Homo sapiens: one gene and its partners. The protein of the gene in region 2 purifies or fractionates together with the protein of the main gene of each other region. This does not show direct contact. Each region holds a gene or a part of one and is shown on either strand. Other genes may lie near its edges.

Evidence for each region. Proteins that work in one complex are often made in the same cells at the same time.
Region 1: the proteins of LRRN2 (region 2) and ST7L purify together in Homo sapiens (affinity purification with mass spectrometry; 2 studies listed by BioGRID and IntAct, with this or other methods). This does not show direct contact.
Region 3: the proteins of LRRN2 (region 2) and LRIG3 purify together in Homo sapiens (co-immunoprecipitation; 3 studies listed by BioGRID and IntAct, with this or other methods). This does not show direct contact.

The regions. Positions count from the first base shown.
Region 1 is NC_000001.11:112,609,131-112,616,157, reverse strand, and holds part of ST7L (suppressor of tumorigenicity 7 protein-like), read left to right. Parts: intron 1-5,154; coding exon 5,155-5,317; intron 5,318-7,027.
Region 2 is NC_000001.11:204,682,712-204,689,568, forward strand, and holds the start of LRRN2 (leucine-rich repeat neuronal protein 2 precursor), read right to left. Parts: upstream 3,028-6,857; 5' UTR 2,609-3,027; intron 287-2,608; exon of another isoform or gene 159-286; intron 1-158.
Region 3 is NC_000012.12:58,882,494-58,889,520, forward strand, and holds part of LRIG3 (leucine-rich repeats and immunoglobulin-like domains protein 3 isoform 2 precursor), read right to left. Parts: intron 6,470-7,027; coding exon 6,326-6,469; intron 5,980-6,325; coding exon 5,836-5,979; intron 5,440-5,835; coding exon 5,296-5,439; intron 4,398-5,295; coding exon 4,317-4,397; intron 3,410-4,316; coding exon 3,338-3,409; intron 1,099-3,337; coding exon 1,027-1,098; intron 540-1,026; coding exon 376-539; intron 1-375. UniProt on the Homo sapiens protein: May play a role in craniofacial and inner ear morphogenesis during embryonic development. May act within the otic vesicle epithelium to control formation of the lateral semicircular canal in the inner ear, possibly by restricting the expression of NTN1.

The sequences.
Region 1 (7,027 bases), about 92 Mb from region 2:
GGTAGCCTGGACAGTGCATGCCCCTTCTAAAAGAGGCTAAAGCTAATTGTTGCCATATAGACTTGGAACTAGTATTACCAGGTTTTTCAATTTTTCAAATGATTTAAAGAGAACCCAGACAGGCCGGACGTGGTGGCTAACACCTATAATCCCAGCACTTTGGGAGCCTGAAGCAGGCAGATCACTTGAGGCCAGGAGTTCAAGAACAGCCTGGCCAACATGATGAAACTCCGTCTACTAAAATACAAAAAATAACTGGGTATGGTGGTATGTGCCTGTAGTCCCAGCTACTCGGAAGGCTGAGGCATAAGAATCTCTTGAACTTGGGAGGTGGAGGTTACAGTGAACCAAGATCTTGCCACTGCACTCCAGCCTGGGCGACAGAGAGAAACCCTTTCTCAAAAATGAATGAATAAATAAGTAGAACCTGGACATACAGTTTTTATATAAAATTTGCCCATTAAAAAAAAATTGAGATGGAGTCTCACTACGTTGCCCAGGCCAGAGTACAGTCGATATTCACAGGCACCATTATAGCACACTGTGGCCTTAACTCCTGGGCTCAAGCCATCCTCCCGTCTCAGCCTCCCTAGTAGCTGGGATTACAGGCATGTGCCACCATGTCTGACTACAGCATTTTAATATTGGCAACATTGGGAAGACTAAAATTTATGTGTCATGAATTCAACTTACAGTTTTTTCAAGCCCCAGTTTCCTCATCTGTTAACTGGCAGTTAATAGCATGAACTTTATAGGATTATGAAGAGTAAATCAGATAATGTTGTAAGTTTATAACATGATAGCTGGTTCAGAATGTACACTTAATGAATTTTGGCCATTATTCTGAGAATTCTCACAATTAAGAAACCTGTTTGGCCTGATACAGTGGTTCATACCTGTAATCCTAGCACTTTGGGAGACCGAGGTGGGGTGATAGAGTTCGAGACCAGCCTGGGAAACATGGAAAAACCCTGTCTCTTCAAAAAAATACAAAAATTAGGCGTGTGTGGCGCACCTATAGTCCCAGCTACTGGAGAGGCCAAGGTGGGAGGATCACTTGAACCCTGGAGGGAGAGGTTACAGTGAGCCAAGATGGTGCCACTGCACTCTAACCTGAGTGACAGAGCAAGACTCTGTTTCAAAAAACAAAAACAACAAAACTGTTTAACTTTAATTCAACTTTTCCTTGAAGAAGATATTTTTAATTTAAAAAAAATAAAATATTTTTTATAATTCACGTTAACATCCCTAGGATGTCATGTTTACTAGTGTACACTTTGGAACAATACTGCTGCAGATAAAAATCTTAAGAAGTTTTATGCCATGCATAGCCAATAAATTTTTCTCTTCCCTTTAAATTTTTATTTATTTTTTGTAGAGACAGAGTCTCACTGTGTTGTTCAGGGTAGTCTCAGACGCTTGGGCATAAACGATCCATTCTCCTCGGCCTCCCAAAGTGCTAAGGTTCCAGGCGTGAACCACCATGCCCAGCCTGTTCTTTTTTTTATCTCTAGGTGGTGCTCTCCAGCTGTAGTAGAAATAGCATTTGTATTGGATCTATTTTTTTAAATAGGGACTAAATACAGACCATTTTGTTAAAGTGAAATGCCAAACAAGAACGAGATTTTTCTCTTGGCTAAAAAAAATAGAAGCTATTGAGGAATTCAGGATTAAAACTACATGTTAATATAAGCCTCATAATTTAACATAAGCATATTTTAGCATGTTTAGTCCATAGCATACAAAAGTCTAAGTAAAGACGATAAACTGTCTTTAAGCCAGGCACGGTGGCTTACACCTGTAATCCCAACACTTTGGGAGGATGGAGTGGGAGAATCCCTTAATGCCAGAAGTTTGAGACCAGCCTGGGCAACAACAAGACCCTGTCTCTATTTAATATGGTTTTTGTTTGTTTGTTTTAAAGAAACTATCAATATTAAGCAGCTGATATAGTGGAAAAAGCTCTGGTTTGGGAACCAGAAGATAAAATTTTGAATCTTAACTCTGCCACTTACTAGCTGATAATTTTGGGCAAGCTACATAAACTGTCTAAGCTATAATTTCCTCATTTATAAGAGGGGGATAACTTATATATATGATGTCTAAAACCTTGTAAAAAACTTTTTGTGGCCAGGTGTGGTGTCTCGTGTCTGTACTGCCAACACTGTGGGAGGCTGAGGCAGGAGGATTGCTTGTGGCCAGGAGTTCAAGAGCAGCCTGGACAAATGAACAAGATCTGGTCTCTGTATAAAATTTTAAAAATTTAGCGCGTTGTGGTGGCGCATTCCTGTAGTCCCAGCTACTTCAGAGACTGAGGTGGGAGGATTGCTTGAGCCCAGGAAATCGTGGCTGTGGTGAGCTGTGATCATGCTACTGCACTCCAGCCCGGGCAACAGAGTGGACCTTGTCTCAACAACAAAACAACAACAACAAAAACCCAAAAAAACCTTTTGTTACTCTTTATAAAACCGCATTTTAAATATACACAAATTAGGAAATTCAAGTAACATTTTAAAGGTTAAACTGTATTATTACCCTTGCAATGTTGATGGGTTTTTATTAGCAAAGGTTGTTGTGTTTATAATTTCTTTTACCACCTGGATTTAACAAACTTGTATATACATATAATCACATATACATGTATAAAGAGATATATTTATGAATCAGTCTGGTGTAATGGTTGGAAGCTCCGAAGTCAGGCAAACCTGAATAAGAATCCCAGCTCTGCCAGTTACCAGTGATGTGAACTGTTATTTAAATTTGGAATGTGTGTCCTCATCTCTAAAATCAGTTGTTATAAAAATTAAATGACATAATGCATGTCAAGGATTGGCATAATGTGTGGCTCATAGAAAGCTTTTGATAAGTATTTGCAGTTATTATTACCATTGTTCATTTGTGTTAAAAAGTTGACTCAAAAGTTGAAAAAAGCCCCTAACTTCATACTCATTCATTAGAAAACCCACCTGCACTTTGTATGGTGAAGGGAAGTGTGTTGTTGTTGCCCTTGATGGTACTTATCTTCTCTTTTTTTTTTTCGAAACAGTGTTTTACTCTGTCACCCAGGCTGGAGTGAAGTGGTACAATCACAGCTCACAGCAGCCTTGACCTGCTGAACTCAAGCAATCCTCCCACCTCAGCCTCCAAAGTAGCTGGGACTACAGGCACACACCCTCACACCTGGCTCATTTTTTTTATGTTTTGTAGAGATGGGGTCTCACTATGTTGTCCAGGTTAATCTCAAATTCCCAGCCTCAAGTGATCCTCCCACCTCAGCCTCCCAAAGTGTTGGGATTATAGGCATGAGCCACCGTGCCTGGCCCTATCCAATTTTCTTAGCCAAGATTTATTCAATATAAACCTTTTCTGTCACATGAACAGTTTCTGCTTGTGTAAAGAAGTTTTATCTCACTTCTTAGTAAAATATATGGTAGAAGTCAAACCATGGCCTCATTTGGTGGTAATTCTTGCTAACTTAAGAGTGAGCAGAAAGAGATACCATTTTAGACTGAGCATAAAACATTAGTGACATGATAGAAAAAATGCTGCACCATGATTTTCTCACACTTTCCTATAAACGTTGTGGCATGTAGTCAGCGGGCCCCAACATGACTATACTTTTGGCACCTATGTAGCATATTTGTTCTGTTATTTACTGAAGCAAAAAAATAACATTCCTACAGATTTGAAAATGCTGATTTTTTTGTGATGGGTTCTGTTTGTGGTCATAGTAAAATAGTTTTCAAAAATATTATAATCTGGCCGGTCATGGTAGCTTACACCCATAATCCTAGCACTTTGTGAGGCCAAGGAGGGCAGAGCGCTTAAGCCCAGGAATTTGAGACCAGCCTGGGCAACATGGCAAAACCTTGTCCCTACAAAAAACATAAAAATTAGCTGGGCATGGTGGCACATGCCTGTAGTCCTAGCTACACGGGAGGCTGAGGTGGGATGATCACCTGAGCCCAGGGAGGTCAAGGTTTCAGTGAGCTGTGATCATGCCACTGTACTCCAGCCTGGTGACAGTGGGATCCTATCTCAAAACATTTTAAAAAAAGGAAATAAAAAGATTAAAATCTCTTAGTTGTGCATATGCTTTGTTTATTCTTTAAAGTAATACATGTATCCACTACATTTGGCAGAAGACTAGTCTGTCAGGTGACTTTTTTTTTTTTTTTTTTTTTTTTTGAGACAGGGTCTCACTCTATTGCCCAGGCTGGAGGGCAGTGGTGCAATCTCAGCTCACTGCAGCCTTGACCTCCTTGGGCTCAAGAGATCCTCCCACTTCAACTTCCTGAGTAGCTGGAACTGCAGGCATGCACCACCTCACCCAGCTAATATTTTATTTTTATATTTTTCTGTAGAGATGAGGTCTCACTGTTTTGTCCAGGCTGGTCTAGAATTCTTGGGCTCAAGCGATTCTTCTTGAGGATCCCTCTTTTGGGACTTCTTGGCCTCCCAAAGTGCTGGAATTACAGACGTGAACCACCGTGTCTGGCCTGGTTTCTCTTTTTATATCAGTGATAAACCATGGAAATAGAAAGAAATGAATATCCTGATTTTTAAATGGTTCAATATGGGAATCAACTTGACCTTAACCTTTATTAATAATTTTGCCAAATACCAGAGTAGTACTTTTTGCTTCAGAAAGCACTTTCTTATAATTCTTGTTAACCACATTTAGCTGAGGCTCTGAGATATTAAGAGATTAAGTGACTTGCCCACAGCACACAGCTAATAAATGACTGATTTGGGAGTTAAAACATGGGCATGCTGATGCTAGTCTAGTCTGTTCATCCACTATGCTTATTATTTGAAAACTGTTTATGCTGCAGATAGAATAAAATGACAATGTAACTTAACAGAGTTAAATTACTTATAGATTAAAATGCTTCTTTCTGTTTTTAATGCTTTATTACATATGCCTAGTTTTGCTTAAGCTTGTCTAAATTTTATGACGGAACTATAAAAAATGTATTTCACTTTTACGTGACATGTTATTGGTGAATCTTGTGTTTGTATGTTTTTTTCTTTTTGAAAGGAGAGTGCATTTAAAATGCTGAATTGAACAGGACATCTTGAGAGAATGTTTTAATTTGAGCTCATGTATCTGCTGATCGATTCTAAGTGCAGGATATTTTCTGTTTGTCATAGATATTTGAATGGTGGTACTTCCATAAGCATGGCACATCTTTTATTGAGCAAGTATCTGTAAGCCATTTGCAACCACTGATGGGAGGAACAGAGAGCAGCATTTCAGAACCAGGTTCTCCTTCGAGGAACAGAGAAAATGAAACCAGCAGACAGAATTTGTCAGGTGACTACTTTTCTAATGTGTTTTCAGAGCTGTGTATTTAAGATTGAGTTTGGCTCTGGGAGATAGAAAACTCAAAACAGCAGAGTGCTGTGGTGTGCATGTTTGTGTTTCCCCCAAAATTCTAATCACCAATGTGATGTTACGAGGTAGGGTCTTTGGGAGGTGATCAGGTCATGAGGGCAGTGCCCTCAGGGATGTGATGAATGCCCTTATGAGAGACCCCAGAGAGCTGCTTGCCACTTCTACCGTGGGAGGACACCACGAGAAGGCGCCGTCTGTGAACCAGAAAGCAGACCCTCACCAGACACCAAATTTGTTGGTACCTTGGTCATAGACTTCCCAGCCTCCAGAACTGTTAAAAATAAATTTATACTGTTTATAATCTACGCAGTTTGTGATATTTTGTTATAGCAGTCCAAATGGACCAAGACACAGAAATTTGTCTTTCATGTTAATATAGTTAGTCCATGGCTAGTATGGAAAACAATAATCATCAGATACCCAGACCCCTTCTATTTTGTTAGCCTGCCATCTCCAAATGTAGTTTTTACTTTGTCGTGTAAGACTGTTGCTCTTGCTTCAGCCATCATATCCACATTCCAATCAGTAGGAAGGAAAGAAATCCGGGGTAAGGTCACTACTTCCCTCTACTCCACCCCACAGAAGCCAAGGACTATTCTCAGAAATGTTACATACTATTTCACCTTACTTCCTACTGGTCAGGTCTGTTTCATATGGCCATTACTAGCTATAAGGAAGGCTAGAAATTTTCATCATTTTCTCAGTGTATATATATATATACGCCCAGCAAATCAGGGAATCTTATGACTAATAAAGGAGAGAACAGAAACAGCCATCTCTGCCAAGAGAGAAAAGTAGGAAAAAAAATTTTTTTCAGTATACTTAAAAAGGCATCAAAGTCTCAGCTCTTCATGGATGGATATTCCATTGTCATACTTTTATTGTAGACTGTTCCTCTATTTGTGTCGAGTAATCGCAAATTTATTTATTTATTTAGTTAGAGACAGAATCTTGTCTGTTGCCAGGCTGGAGTGCAGTGGTGCGATCTCGGCTCACTGCAACCTCTCCTTCCAAGTTCAAATGATTCTCCTGCCTCAGCCTCCCGAGTAGCTGGGACTACAGGCATGCACCACCATGCCTGGCTAATATTTTGTATTTTTAGTAGAGATGGGGTTTCACCATATTGGCCAGGATGGTCTCAATCTCTTGACCTCATGATCTGCCCACCTTGGCCTCCTAAAGTTCTGGGATTACAGGCGTGAGCCACCATACCCAGCATTTTTTTTTTTTTTTGAGACGAAGTCTCTGTAGCCCAGGCTAGAGTGCAGTGGTGCAATCTCAGCTCACTGCGACCTCTGCCTCCTGGGTTCAAGTGATTCTCCTTCCTCAGCCTCCCAAGTAGCTGAAATAACAGGCATGTACCACTGCACCCAGCTAATTTTTGTATTTTTAGTAGAGATGGGTTTCACCATGTTGGCCAGGCTGGTCTTGAACTCCCGACCTCAGGTGATCTGTCTGCCTCGGCTTCCCAAAGTGCTAGGATTACAGGCGTGAGCCACTGAGCCTGGCCAGCTAGAAAGCAAATATTTTTAATGATACATAATTAGGAAAGGAAAATTTACAAAGCCAAATACAATTATTATTATTATTATTTTAATAGAGATGAGGTCTCAGTATGTTGCCCAGGCT
Region 2 (6,857 bases):
TTCTACTTGCCCTGGGCTGCCAGATAAATGGTGAGATGTGACCTGGTCCATCCTTTCAGGTCAGAAAAGTATCCTAAGGACAGGATGACTTAAGCGGTACCTGGCATGTTAGAGGTCACTCAGTGTGATAATTCACTAGCATTGTTCATGTTCCTCACCTCTGCCCCCTCAAGCTGTGGGTCTTTGAACGAGCCTGGTGGGAACAGAGCTAATCAGCTGGCAAGTCCAGATACAAGTGTGGTCAGCTTGAGACATGGAGGTTTGTTTACCGCTGTATCTTCAGCTTCTAAAATCATGAGAGGCACACAGTAGGCACTCAAGAAACAGTTGTTGAATGAATACATTTTTTTAAAAGCCATGGAGTTTCCTTTTCCTTTCAAATAAACGACATAAGGGTGTGGGGAGTAGAAGGGGGAGGTGAGTAAATGACAGGGTTCAAGGGACACCAGGGCCAGGCAAATGCAGCTGCCAGGCCCACCAGCCCAGGCTCCTCTGCAAAAGGGATGCAGCAAAGTCAACAGTGCATGTGCTCCCACTGGCAGGATGAGCAGGAGTGCGTGCACGCCTGGCTTACGGTTTAAGCTGCAGTTTACAGGAGAAGCAGGGCAAAGTGGAGACAGAGCCTGGGAAGAAAGGGAGATATCTGGGGAAGAATGAGGAGGGTGAGAGAAGAGGAAGAGCAGTGTGAGGGGGAAAAGGGAAGTGAAGAGTGTTAGAGGAGGAAAGTGAAGAGTGAAGGAAGGAGAGGAGGATGAGGGGGAGGAGGAAGAGGGGAGGCACAGGGAAAATAGGATGGGAAGTGAGGAAGAACTGTGTTGAATTAGAGAGGGAACCTGCTGTACTAGCCTGGATGGAATTAGCAGATCTCTGAGATCTTACTGCCACTCGGTGTTTCCCCGGGAGGAGACTGCATTAGGGAGAGGGTGTGGATTTGGGGGTGTTCCTAGGTGCCAGACCCTGGGCAGACCTCAATCTCCCAGGCACTGAGGCCTTTAGTTCCATGCTTTGCAAATAATGAGGACCCATCCCAGGACCAGAGAGAGCCCTCCGCAAGAAGGAGAAGCCTGAGTCAGCACAGGGGAAGGAAGAAGGCCTAGGAGGCTCAGATCCCTAGCTCTGCCCTTCTGTTTCCATCGTTTCGCCACAACAGCACCTGGCCAGGAAAGTGGGTCAGGCCACCCACATGTGGCTTTTTCTGGTAGCCACAGGGCCCAAAGGCAAGGGGGCTCCAGTGCCCAGTGCAGAGCCCACCTCTACCCTCCATGCCCAGTGCTCTTTTTTGAAGGGATCTTTAAGAAGCAGTGGGCAATGGGAGGAGCTCCTGGCCTTCTTATTCAGGGACAAAACGCTGGGCCAGAGCCCATCCTAGACTGGCGGGAAAGGGGGGCACGGAGCCTGCCATCGGCCTGGGTGCATGGGGAGACCTACATCTTCCCCTATGACAGTGACCAAACTGGCAGGGAGTCACCTCTACTGCCCTGACCTAGGGAGGCTGTTCTCCTCACCACCCTAGGTCCTGGAGTTCTCAAGCAGAGGGCCTGTCAGTCCATCTCTGGCAACTGAGCGCTGTGCCCAGCCCACCCCCTCCAACCCTGCCAGTCGCCCAGTTAGAAGCTGCGTTGGCTCCAACAGATGGGAGCTGCGGCAGCCTGAGGAACAGAGCACAAAGCCCAGCTGACATTTTCCTTCCTGTTCGTTTGGGTGGGGGAGGAAGGGTAGGGAGCACAGTGCTACCCCCGGGGCCCCTCCCCAGGTTCCGGGTCTCCTGCACCTCTTTAGCTTCTCCGCTCGGCCCCAGATGGAGCTCAGTTCCCTCACCCCGCGGCTCCTCGCCGGCTGGGCAGCCAGAGCCTGCGCCACCCTTTGCCAGCAGGACAGACGGCCCACCTGTGGCTGGCCAGCCCATCCTGTCTCCTGGGTCCTGCGGTGGGCTCAGAGCCACCCTTCCGTTTCCGCTTCCCCCTGACCGAGTCCCCAGGCTGAGCCCCAGGCCGGCCCATCCCCCACCCCAAAGGTCCCATCCCAGGCTGCGGTCGGACCCCAGCCAGCCGGCCCGGGAGGAGCCTAGCTCCTGGTTCCAGATACTTCAGACAGACCCAAGGCCACCTTGTCCCTCCGCACAGACTCGCGAGCTCCAAGGAGGAGAAAGTCCCCAGGCTCTGGAGCGCTTCCAGCCTGCCAGTCCGCCCGTGTCACGCCCTCCCTAACCTCACTGCCACCTCTCGGCTCCTCCACATCTCCAGGGCCCCACTCTACCCAGCAACAGTTTGGGGGAGGTTCTGGCCTCTCCAGGCGAAGGCCCAGGCGCCCTCTCCCTGGCCGCTTCTGGGCATTCTCCAGCCCTCCGTCCCTCTGCCCCTCGGCCGCCTCCCTCTCCCAAGTCTCCGGCTCCCCCGCAGGCGTCTCGGCGGAAGGCAGCGGCCGGCCCTCCTCTGGCCCCCACCCGGGTCAGGCGGAGCTGCGGTGCCGGGGCAGGAGCCAGGAGCCCTGAGGCGGCTGCTCCGGCCGCTCCCGCCGCGTACGCCTCGGCCACGCCAGCGACCTCGGTGTCCACGATTCCCCGGCGGCGGCGGCGCTGCCCAGGTCAGCCCCGAAGCTGCACACTCACCCCGTGGGCGCCGGGCACCGTCTGCCGTCTGCTGCCCGCGCGGCCGCGCTCCGCTCGCCTTCCGCCCGGGGCCGGGCTGGGGACGCTGGTCCGCGCCCTCCCGCCGCGCGCGCCGTCTGCACAGGCCGGGGAGGCTCGGCGGGCGCCCTCCCCAACGTGGAGTTATCCTGGGAGCGGCTCCAGGGCCCAGCCGGTGAGGGCGATGGCAGAATCCCAATCCGTCCCCACCCCCTCTCCGCGCCCTGGGCGCGTCGCGGCCGGAGGCTGGCGGGCGAGAGCCAGGCGCTCCTTGAGAGCGCCGCGCGTTCGCAGGTGCCCGGAGCAGGCCCTCGCGGCGCCCGGCACCCCCTCCACGCGCGCCCCTCTTCCCGGCTTCGCGCTCGCCCTCCTCACTCGCTTCTCCGCCGCTCTCCCAACCTCCCCAGCCCACTCCGGTCGCCTCCTCCCAGTCTGCATGCCACGCCAACCCCCTCCAGTCCCGCTGCCATTTTAACTCCTGAGTGGCCAGAGGCCCCCTCTACCTAACGCACACACACCCGGGAGGAAGGAGTTGGGTGGGGCCAGACGCTAACGCTTGAGCTGTCCTTGTGCCTAGAGACACAAGGCTTGGCTGAGAGAAGGGGCACAGCCCTTGGGTCCGGGAAGAGAAGGGTTGGCTTCTCTCATACTGCCTCGGACCCTCTTGCAAAGGCCAGGAGACGAATGGGGAATTCAGCAGCTTTGTGAGGACAGGTGCAGCTCACAGTCACAGCATGCACCTAAGATCACATTTTTGCTTTGCATGGTGCTACCCTCCCGAAGTTAACAGTGGACTAAGGAATGTAGTGGGGTGGGTGAGAATTTGTCACTGGGCCCAGGCACCTCTCACCCTAAAGAATGGAGTGGAAGACCCCTTTAGTTGTCATGCTTTTCCAGCATTGCATCCTGAGCCGTGCAGCTCTAGCATTCTGGAAGATTCCGTCCTGGCTCTCAATGAAGGAGGTCAATTTCAGTCAGGAACTGGCAGGCCCAGTTAGGGGTTTGGCTTCAGGGTTCCCCACTCTGCCAGCTGGACATCATGAAGACTGGGGGAGGAAAGTAAGAAGGTGCCAAAGGTGGGTGCTAGGCTGCTGCCTGGTGGCTTAGAAAAGCTGGGTGACTGCCACTAGAGGAGGGCAAAGGCCCAATGCCCAACACCCATGCCTTGGTGGGGACTTCAGCCTGGACCACTCAGAACAGACATCACAAACTCGGCTCCATGGCAGGCCACACCCTACTGATGGGTCTGGACCAGAGCCTGCAGAACCAACAACAGGGGAATGGATGAGGTGGAGGCCAAGGTGTGGAGTCCTGTGAGGAGTGGCTTCCCTGGGCTGCCTGCCGTCATCCAGTGCTTGAGCTTCTGGCCCTGTCTTTTCCAAGGGTACAGCCAGTGGTGACTGCCATGCCTGGTGGCTTTTGTGAAGTTGGCTTGAAGGTCTGAGTTCTGTATGCACAGAGGGGATTCTCACCTTCATATATTGAATGAGCACATATTAAGTTCCCACTAAACCACCCCCATGTTCCCACTCTCCACCCCTGCTACGGAGCATAATGGCCTCAAGGAGCTCAGAGTGACAGGTTGGAACTATATGAAACCAATTTTAATATTTCAAGACGATGGAAGTGCCATAGAAATACAAAAAGAAACCACCTTAATGGACTAGCATTATTCACAAAAGGTTTAACGGAGGAGCTGAGTCTCCAACTGAGCCTAGTTGGAGGGATAGGATTTGAACTGGAAGAGAATATGGGGACCAGCAAAGGCAGGAAAGTGGAGACAAGCAGAGTAGAATGGGTTGTCTGGAGGGTAGGGGGCAAGGGAGGAAAATTATAGAGCTACTATTAGATGCCAGCCTTTTCTCATCTCTGTCATCTTAGACTCTGAGTTGACTAATATCCCCTTTTAACAGACCGGGGGATGGAGGCCCAGATCGTTTAAGGCAGTAGCCCAAAATCTGTAGGCAGAATGTGAGACCTCATTTTCACAGTGCGACAATGCCACATTGAGTATACAGGGTGGGAGCAGCTGATGAAGGGCCCGAATTGCCAGGCTCAGCAGTTTATCTGTGGACCCATCCTCAGGTGATTTGGGATGAAAGAGGCAGGAGGATGGGAGACTATTGAGGTAGCTGTTGCAGGAATCTAGGAGGAGGGGAGCAGTGAGAATAGAGTAAATGCATGGGCCTTTGTAAAGAAGACTTGGCAGAACTGTAAGACTGACTGATTGAAAGGGGTCAAAACTTGACTCCAAGCTTTTAGCCTGAGCATTTGAGTCCCTTGTCGAGTCACTGGAGCCACCTTTCCAGTCTAAGGGCCAATGTCAATGTAGACAGGATGATGGTGAAAAGGAGGACATTTTAGGAGTCCTTTACCAACTGCACGACCGGAGAGAGCACTCATGTCAGCACCCCAGCTTCCCAATAACTATGCATACTCAAGTGTCTTATCTCCTAACCAGAGGGTAAGCTTCTGGAGCCTATGACTGTCTTACACCTTAATAAGATAAGACCAGTCCTTTATAGTAGATGTCCAATAACTGATTATTGAAATAATAAATGGGATAAATGCAAGTAACGTTCACTAAGTGGTTGATCCTGAGTGGCAAAGCCTGTGAGATGTACTAGATGAGGCATAAGGGAATTTCATCAGCTGTGAGAAGAAAATAGGGGAAGGCTTATCTTGAGCTGACTCCAAATGTCTTAGAACCCAATGAGATTGGAGAAAGAGTGTAGCTTTTAGAGCTGGAAAGATTTGGATTTGGAACTCTACTTGTCCATTTACTCTGTCTTGCTTCAGGCAAAGTATTGAACTTCCCCAGCTCTGATTCTTTCCTGAGTAACGATATTAATTCAAGTAATAGCAGTTAACATTTATTGAGCACCTACTACATGCAAGGCAAGGTGCTAGCACATTTATGCATCATCTCATCAAAAATTTGACCAATACTAGGACTCTAGTGATAGGAGAAAAACAAGGTTCAGTGTTTACCTAACCAGTATGTAACAGAGCTAAGACGGGAATCCAGGGTCCTCAAATGACAGAGTCCAAACACCAAGCCAAGTCTCCCTAGCACTTCTTTAGGATGAAGATAGCAATAATGGAATGGATTCATACTTATAGGTTGCTGTGAGATGTTACAGGGACTATATGGCTGGCATGAGCACAGTGGCTGGTGCATGGTATGTGGTTGACATTTTTCTCCCAACCCTGCTCCCATTGCTGCCATTCTGAGTCTCATACTTTCCTGGGAAAAGCTGCCCCAATTCACAGTCCTTTGGAAGCTCTTAGGTAATTACCCAGAGGATTTAATGGCCCTGTTATTGACCTTTCACCCTCCAAATTTAATTTCTGGGCTTGGCCATGCATTATTTCCCACCAGGAAGCCTGGAACTCCGTGACATCAGAGTGTCTTGGGAGAGGGATGCAGGGATTACATGCTGCTAGAAATGATCCTTAGCTCAATTCCAGGTGGCTCTCTCATATAGGGGTCAGGATATGGAACTGGTGGGGATGCTGTTTGTGTGGTGGGGGCTGTGAGGAGAGGATGGCTCCTACTGGTGCCTGGCACATGAGCCGAATCAGAGAAGGGAGGCCTGGGATGTGGCATGGGTCACTGAGGGTCCCTCAGTGGACCCTCCACACACACGACACTGTGTGTTGTGTGCAGCCTCTGCTCAGCCTCCTTGGGAGATATGGGGTGGGGTCTGGGGAGTCAATGAGGACTGTTGTCCCCCACCAGTGACCCAACTAGGCAGAGAGTAAGGCACTAGAGCAGTGGACCTTGGAATCACCTGGAGAGTGTGGGCCAATGCAGGTGCTGAGGTCCTACCCCAGAGTCAGATTCTGTAGTTCTCAGAGTCTGCATTTCAGATAAACCATCCAGGGGATTCTGATTCAGGTGGTTGGATGACCTCACTGTGAGACAGACTGGCCTGGGGGTGCCCATTGCTCTCTGACCGTCCCCTGCCCGGGCTCCCCATGTGCAGAGCCTTGTTCTCTGGGCTATTAGAGAACAAGTGAAGGCAGAGGCAGAGGCAGAGGTGAAGGGAATGAAGCTCAAGTTTTAGGGCTTCTCGACTTGCAGGATGGTGGGGAGAGGGTGGGCTATGAAAGCTGGGAACTGTAGAGTGTCCTAGGTGAAGAGGGGAAGCCAGTTTACGAACAGGAAGCATTTTTATGTAAGGATTTCTGGTAAATGGAATGAAGAAATGTCAGGAGAAAGGGACCC
Region 3 (7,027 bases), on a different chromosome or scaffold from region 2:
AACCTCCCAACAAGCCTCAGAGTTGGGAAGAGAAGAAAGGAGAGTCCCCATTTCATGGATGCAGAGACTAATATTTAGGGAATTTAAGTTAAGTAGAAGGGCTGAGATTACCCTTCCATTCTCCCAAGATCCAATTTCATTCTCATTCCACCGCACCATCCTGATGCCAAAACAAAGATGAAGCAATTTTAGAAAACTCTCTTTCCCATCTGTGAAATTAAAATAATCAGCAAACTATAGACCCATTTTCCTCTACCTCAGCAGAAATAAAAGCTTTATAAAGAGATCATAAATCTATTCAAAACCATTATTTGGATAAATGGGAGGGGGAAAAAAGAAGAATAAATAAAAGGCAAGGGCAATACTTATACTCACCACACACAAAGCCATCTGGGCTAACAGCAAAAATGCTTCTTCCTTTTAGCAGCTGAGGATGGGCACAACTGGCATTTACAAAGCTCTGAAAGTTGTTTTCCGCCACCCACTGTGGGAGCCATTTTAGCTGGCAATCGCACAAAAGGCTTGATGTATTTAAATGCCTGAGGAGAGTAATTACATTCAATTTGTTCTGTATGAAATGCAGATTTCTACAAGTAAACTAAACCCAAGTAAATATTAACAAAGCAATGAATTTGGAAACTGAATACACACATCCCATGGAATAAGTATCCCACAGTCCATTTTAAAATACAAGAAATGTATCTAGCATGATTTTCTGTTGTTCTTACTGTCCTACTGAGACAGAAGTGTTGATTTATCAAAAGTTCCTTACAACTGAAAAAATTACTACTATATTGGGTGACTGTACTATATTTGGTCCCACAAAGTTGCGAATTTAAAATAGAAAGAAAAACTCATTTCAACAAAAAGAACAAATAAACTCCTTTTCTGTTGCCTAGTATAAAAATTAAGTAATGTTAAGAATGTGCCAGGCACTTTTTATAGATACATAATCCAGGATGCCACACCATATGACAGTTTTCCCCTCTATACTTTCAGACTCCTAGAAGGAAAAGAAAAGCTTACAATTGTTGCAGTTTCTTCATTTGTGAAAATGCATTGCCTTGTAAAGACATGATTGCGTTGTCACTCAGGTCTCTGAAAAATCACCAAATCAAATGCATCAGAGCAAACTACCATCATTTCGTGCTTTTGGACAAAGTTTGGGCCCCCACTGCCCACCCCATTTGCCAAACAAATACTCCCTCTATGTGTCAAATACATGACTGGGGCAGCCCCAGAAGAATCCACTGCAAAGCTTGTGCTGAAGACCCAGGGCATTTGTATCACAGATAGGTTTTGTTTTAGTGAAAAAGATTCACTTTCTGTCATCACTTAAAGATTATTTGACTCATTAGGGCCCATGCTGTTCTATTATTTCATTCTATTACTCTTTATTCAAATTAGCAACTATTGGAAACTTCTAAATATACAAATAAAATATACAAATAAAAAATAAAAATAATTATGCTTTTATAAAACATTTACACAGTATTTTTGAAGATATGCACTCAGTTAAGTGATTTACAAGTGTTACTGCATTTATTCCTACAACAACCCAAAATATGATGGTATTACTACTTAGCTCAGCACGAAAGGGGAAGGTAAGGGTTGAAACAATTATTTTCAATTCCAAAACCTGTGCTTTTAACCATTAACCTAATTCTGTCACCCACAGCTCACTAACATAAACGCAGTAAGATGTTCAGACAAGATATACTTGTTAAAACCAATACTTCAGGCAGGAAATTCATAAAATGAGCACATATTCTGGATTAATTCTCTTTATACAGAGACTTATAAGCACTCTGCATTAAAGTATTCACCACAATGATTACCACTCTGTTTTTCTTTACAGGGGTCACAGTATACAAAGGGAATATTGAGTGAGACAAGTGGGAAGAGAAGACAAAGAAAGAAGGGACCAGACATGGCTAGACGAAGAGGCTGGGGCAATCAAGGAAGATTTAAGAAAACTGAAGCAGAGATTAATACTCCACTGATCCACTAATTCCACGTTCCCAGAAACGGAATGGGCCAAATGACAAACCCTTTTGGCTAGTTTTCTTTTCAAAATAATCGGTTTCAATAAATACTGCAATGTTGGTCTGCCCTTCCAAAACTCAGCTTTGCAGAATCATTCTACTATAATTTGAACTGCCGCACTCACTGTCTGGGTGGCTCACGATCCAAGTCTCCCTCAGAGGAACTGGTGCAGTCAGAAGGTGACAACACAGTGGTTTACAGATAACAGCTAAATCTTCACTCTCAATACACAGCACACATAGGAGAACCCAATATGTATTTTAAATTGTAACTTCTTTTGTCCTGGTTAATACATATTAAAACTTCTGGATACAAGCATTCCTTAACAGTCAGAGTCGATATTATACATTACTTTGTACTTTTACTGTACAAGCGTAAAACATACATCCATGGTTATAAGCAGCTGGTTGGTTCCCTTAGTTAAAACATGCAAGTTTTGATTCCTATCAATGTTAGCTAGCTTTCCTCTCTTAGTGGCTGAAAATTCCTGAGCCCCTAAATGACATTTCAGAAATGTGTGCCAGGAGTTACTAGGAGCTACTGGGAGTAGCGGCAGAGATTGTACAGGCAAGAGCTAGTGTGATGCAGGGACACTGTGCAAGTCGGGGCAGCTCTGGGTTGCGTCCTGCTTCTGACAGCTACTAACTGGTGGGTCAAGACGAAACAAAAGAAAACAACAAAAAAGAGAACAATGGTAAGGGGGGGTTGTATGTTTCATAATTAAACAACAATAAGAGACCAACAATTCTCAAAGTAGTGCTAAAACTCTCCTATGTCACTCTTAAGGATTGTGGAACATTGTCTTTGTTCTTTAAAAGCCAAGTCATCTCCTTTAACTGTCCAGTGGAATCAATAAACTCTTAGAACCTCCGCTTAACAATAAAGATAATAATAGCTATTGAATTGTATTCTGACTAAGAATTAAATGAGAATATATGTGAATATGTGGTACAATGCCTGATATATAGTGGATGAACTACACCTAGTAGTTTGTTTTTTTTTTAATTAAATAATCACTGTTTGAGAAAAACAATTAAAAACCCATTAAGGAGATATAGCTTTTGTTCTTAAATACAAAGGAAAGCATACACCTGTATACTTCTATATAGGTAGGTAGGTAAGTAGGTAGACAGAGAAAGAAATAGAAAGATAGGGAGATGTTTAAATATATTTTATGGAACCGGAAGGATGCCAACAAAATTACATTCCAGTTTGTTTTATCTTTCATGACACATAAGTAAAAACCATCTTAGAGATTCTCTTTTAGGGTAACTAAATTCTAGCTACTCACAGATGCTCCAATGCATCCAAACCAGTGAAGGCTTTTTTAGTAATAGAACGGATCCGATTTCCTTGGAGTATCCTGGGGAAAAAAATTACATTGGAGCACTTAATTTAAAAAGCCATTTTGGGGTGGAACTCTCATAAACAGAACTGCTTTTTAAATTATGTGTGAGCAATTCCATTTTCTTCAATTAAACAATATATCCTGTAAAAATGTGTCCATGCCATCTATTTCAATAATGTAGTCGAACATGGTTTTTGAAGCATTCAACAAAGAGCCCAACAAAAATAGGTATTCAGTAAGTCACTCTGCTGATTAAGTTAAATCACTGTTTTTCAGAGTCCTTTTAGGAATAGGTAGAGACTTTATTTCAAGTAAACTGTCTCAGAACACTAACAAAGCAGATAATAGTGAACGTTTTCTCCTTCCTCTCCTTCTCTGTGGATACCTTCCATCCATAGGAGTTTGGGACTATAGGGAGCTGAATTTGAATACTGCTGGCTTAACACATGTAATTTGACCATCTGCAAGACCATTTTATGGTTAATTATAAGATGTTTTCATCCTGTTTTGCTTGTAACCTACCACAGCATTATCAGTGGCTACTAGATTACTTCATTAAAAAAATTCCTACGGGGACAGTACAACATTGAGGATTTCAAGATGTGGAAGTGCCTGCACTAACTTTTACGCAATGATAATTCCAAAAGTGTAAGCCCTCAACATAGATGAAAATTATTATGAGGATATTAAAGTAAATTACACATACTAAAATGTTGAATAAAACACTTTCACCTAAGGAAGAAAAAGTTAATAATATACATCTTGCGCAACAGCAGGCATTTGGGGAGAGGATCAAGGGTGGTAACCAGATTAAGCACTGATTTCTCATCTCTTCATGATGTCAACTTGTATAGCTGACTTCAGTGAAGACAAAATTTTTAAATCAAAGAGTGAGCTAAATTATGAGGCAATTCATACTCACAGTCGCCTCAGTTTGTCAAGCCCAGAGAAAGCACCATTCATGTCTTCAATAGTCCAGGAAATTTCATTGTTCTTCAGATCCCTAATTTTAAAAGAAGCATTCCCTTTAGAGTGATAAGCTCAGAAAGCCTAGTATCACCACCCAGGTGGCATATCATTTGTAAAAAATTTCTCATAATTCCCCACATTATCTCCACCTCTCTCAAAATAATAGAAAACTCTTTTTCTCCAACTTACCTCTTACACCCTGCCTGATTCCCTCAACAACATTTTAAGTTTTTCCCTAAAATCCGAAAAAGCTGACACTGGCCCTATTAATTCCTCTATCAAAATGACTACATTCTGAATGATCCGAACAGTCTGAAAAATACATTAAACTTTAAAACCACTCTTCCAACCACGCATGCAGAAGTTCGCCAAAGCATACAGTATGTCTTTCAATTACGTAATGCTTCAAATAGCGAACAGAGCAAAAGTTTCTGACAGAGCAAAAATCAAAAGCCCATTGCACAACCTTAAATTACCATTTGAGAAATTTTTCAAAGGTCAATTAATTTAACTCCCTTTTCTTTCTCTTAGGACAGAGATCAGGTTGAGGATATAACTGGCATGATAAACAGTATCTTCCTTGCCCTTTGTAGACCTTTTTGCTCTAAGTAATTTTTAATCTGTATTTTACAAAGAAAAACTTAGTGGACTTAAAATTGTTTCCCTCTTAAGCAGTTACCAATTTCCTGGAGATCCTGAGAAGGTTCACTGTAATCACCAAAACAAACTGATCACTGTCCTTTTTAATCCCTATACGAAACACATATGGATGAAATGGATCCATTGTAATCAAACTGATCTGGGAAAGATTAAGATACTACTTCTGAGGCTGTATGCATTTCCTTGACAACAAAGGAAATCTGCTAGGAGAAAAGTGGGCATATTTAGGAACCAATTACGTTCGAGTACTGACAGCAAAACGTGTAACTTACAAAGTCTTTAAACTGGAAAGCCCCCGGAAGGCACAATCAGCAATGTAGCTGACTCTGTTGTTCCCAATGTGCAGTGTATTTAGTAAGCTTAGGCCAAGGAAGCTTGAATCATCTAACCTTGATAAGTGATTGAAAGTTAGGTCCCTGTAAAGAAAAAAGAGAAAAGCAATAGCTTTTATTTTTCAATTCAACACAATGATTTGTTTTCCAAAAGACAGGTACTGTATGAGCTACACTAATCCTTATTTTTAAATTCTGCCTTAATAATATCCAAGTAAATATTTCTAATATCAGTAATTAAAAAAATACGTTCTCTTTACTTGAAAATAACCATCATTGCTTTTGCCAACGTGACATAGAACTGCAACAGTAGAACTGGCTTCAACTTATCACAACAAAAATAAGACTAGGTTGCATGTGAAAAAAGCTGTCACCTTGGAAACTTTGTTATGAAAATTTCACAGATCAGTGGTAAGAAGCTCATGCCCTGGCATGATCCCTGCTCTCAAACCTGAGGAGAATAAATAAAAGGCAACTCACAGCTCACTGAGCTTCTGGCAGAACTCCCAGGCATCAGGGCTGATCCTGTTGATGGCATTTTGGCTGAGATGAAGTTCCTGCAGCATCAGCAAGCCGTAAAGCCAGCCTTTGGTAATCTCTGTTAGGTTGTTATGGTCCAGCTGCCTACATTTACAGTAAGAATCAAAAGCAGGATCAAAACTTCATTATCTAGTCTCTTCAAAGGGGACATATGATTACAACCTATTACAGATTCCTATTGTTATTAGATGTTTAGCTTTTGTTATATGAAGACGTCAGCAAAAAAATACTATATAGTTTATACTATACTAAATTTAGGTACTTATAAATTATCGATCACATTACCTGAATCAAAACTGAATACTGACTTATAAATAAGATTGTGGATGATGAGATTTTAACATAGGATTTCACATAAGACCTGCTGAATGTACACTGAGCATTCTATGATCATACTACCTCAGTAGGAACTGTGATAACCCACACTTACAAAATTTCCATGTTGCTCAGCCCCCAAAAAGCTCCATCCATAAGTTTCGTTACTCCATTTCTTTGCATTTTCAGAGACTTCAGAGCACCAAGGCCTTGGAATGTCAGTCCATCTACATTTTTAATCTTGTTTCGGTTCAATTCGCTGCATTGAGTATTACAAGAGTTAGCTTATATGACAATTAAATTCTGGAGGTAGTAATAAAATGTGTCATTACTACAATATAGTTCAACCAGTCAGTGTTCAATTACATACAGTGTTTTCAGTTTCTAAACATTTTTATTGCAAAGAATTTCAATTTGTTAAGCAGGCAGTGAATTTCCTACTGAAATGTGTCATGTGTTTTTGGAATAATAAAATACTGAAACTAGACTGCACTTTAATTTCTAAAGTCTTGTCCACTCAGTATAGACACAAACAAATTAAGATTTGTTTTTAAACAATCCAGAATGAGATTATTAAATGTTACACTAAAACATGAGGTCTATCAAGGAGCTGGGCCTCAAGTTTATCCTGTACAATCTGTTTACAAGTTGGTTACTATCTTTCACCCTTCTTTTTAGGTTTAATGCTTTCTCTTTAAGGCAGTAGTTCTCAGCCTTGGTTGCACACTGGACGCAACCTGGGAGTTTTAAAAATTTCTGAAGCCTGGATCTTACCCTTAGAGGTCCTAATATAATTGGTCTAAGGTGTGGCCTGGGC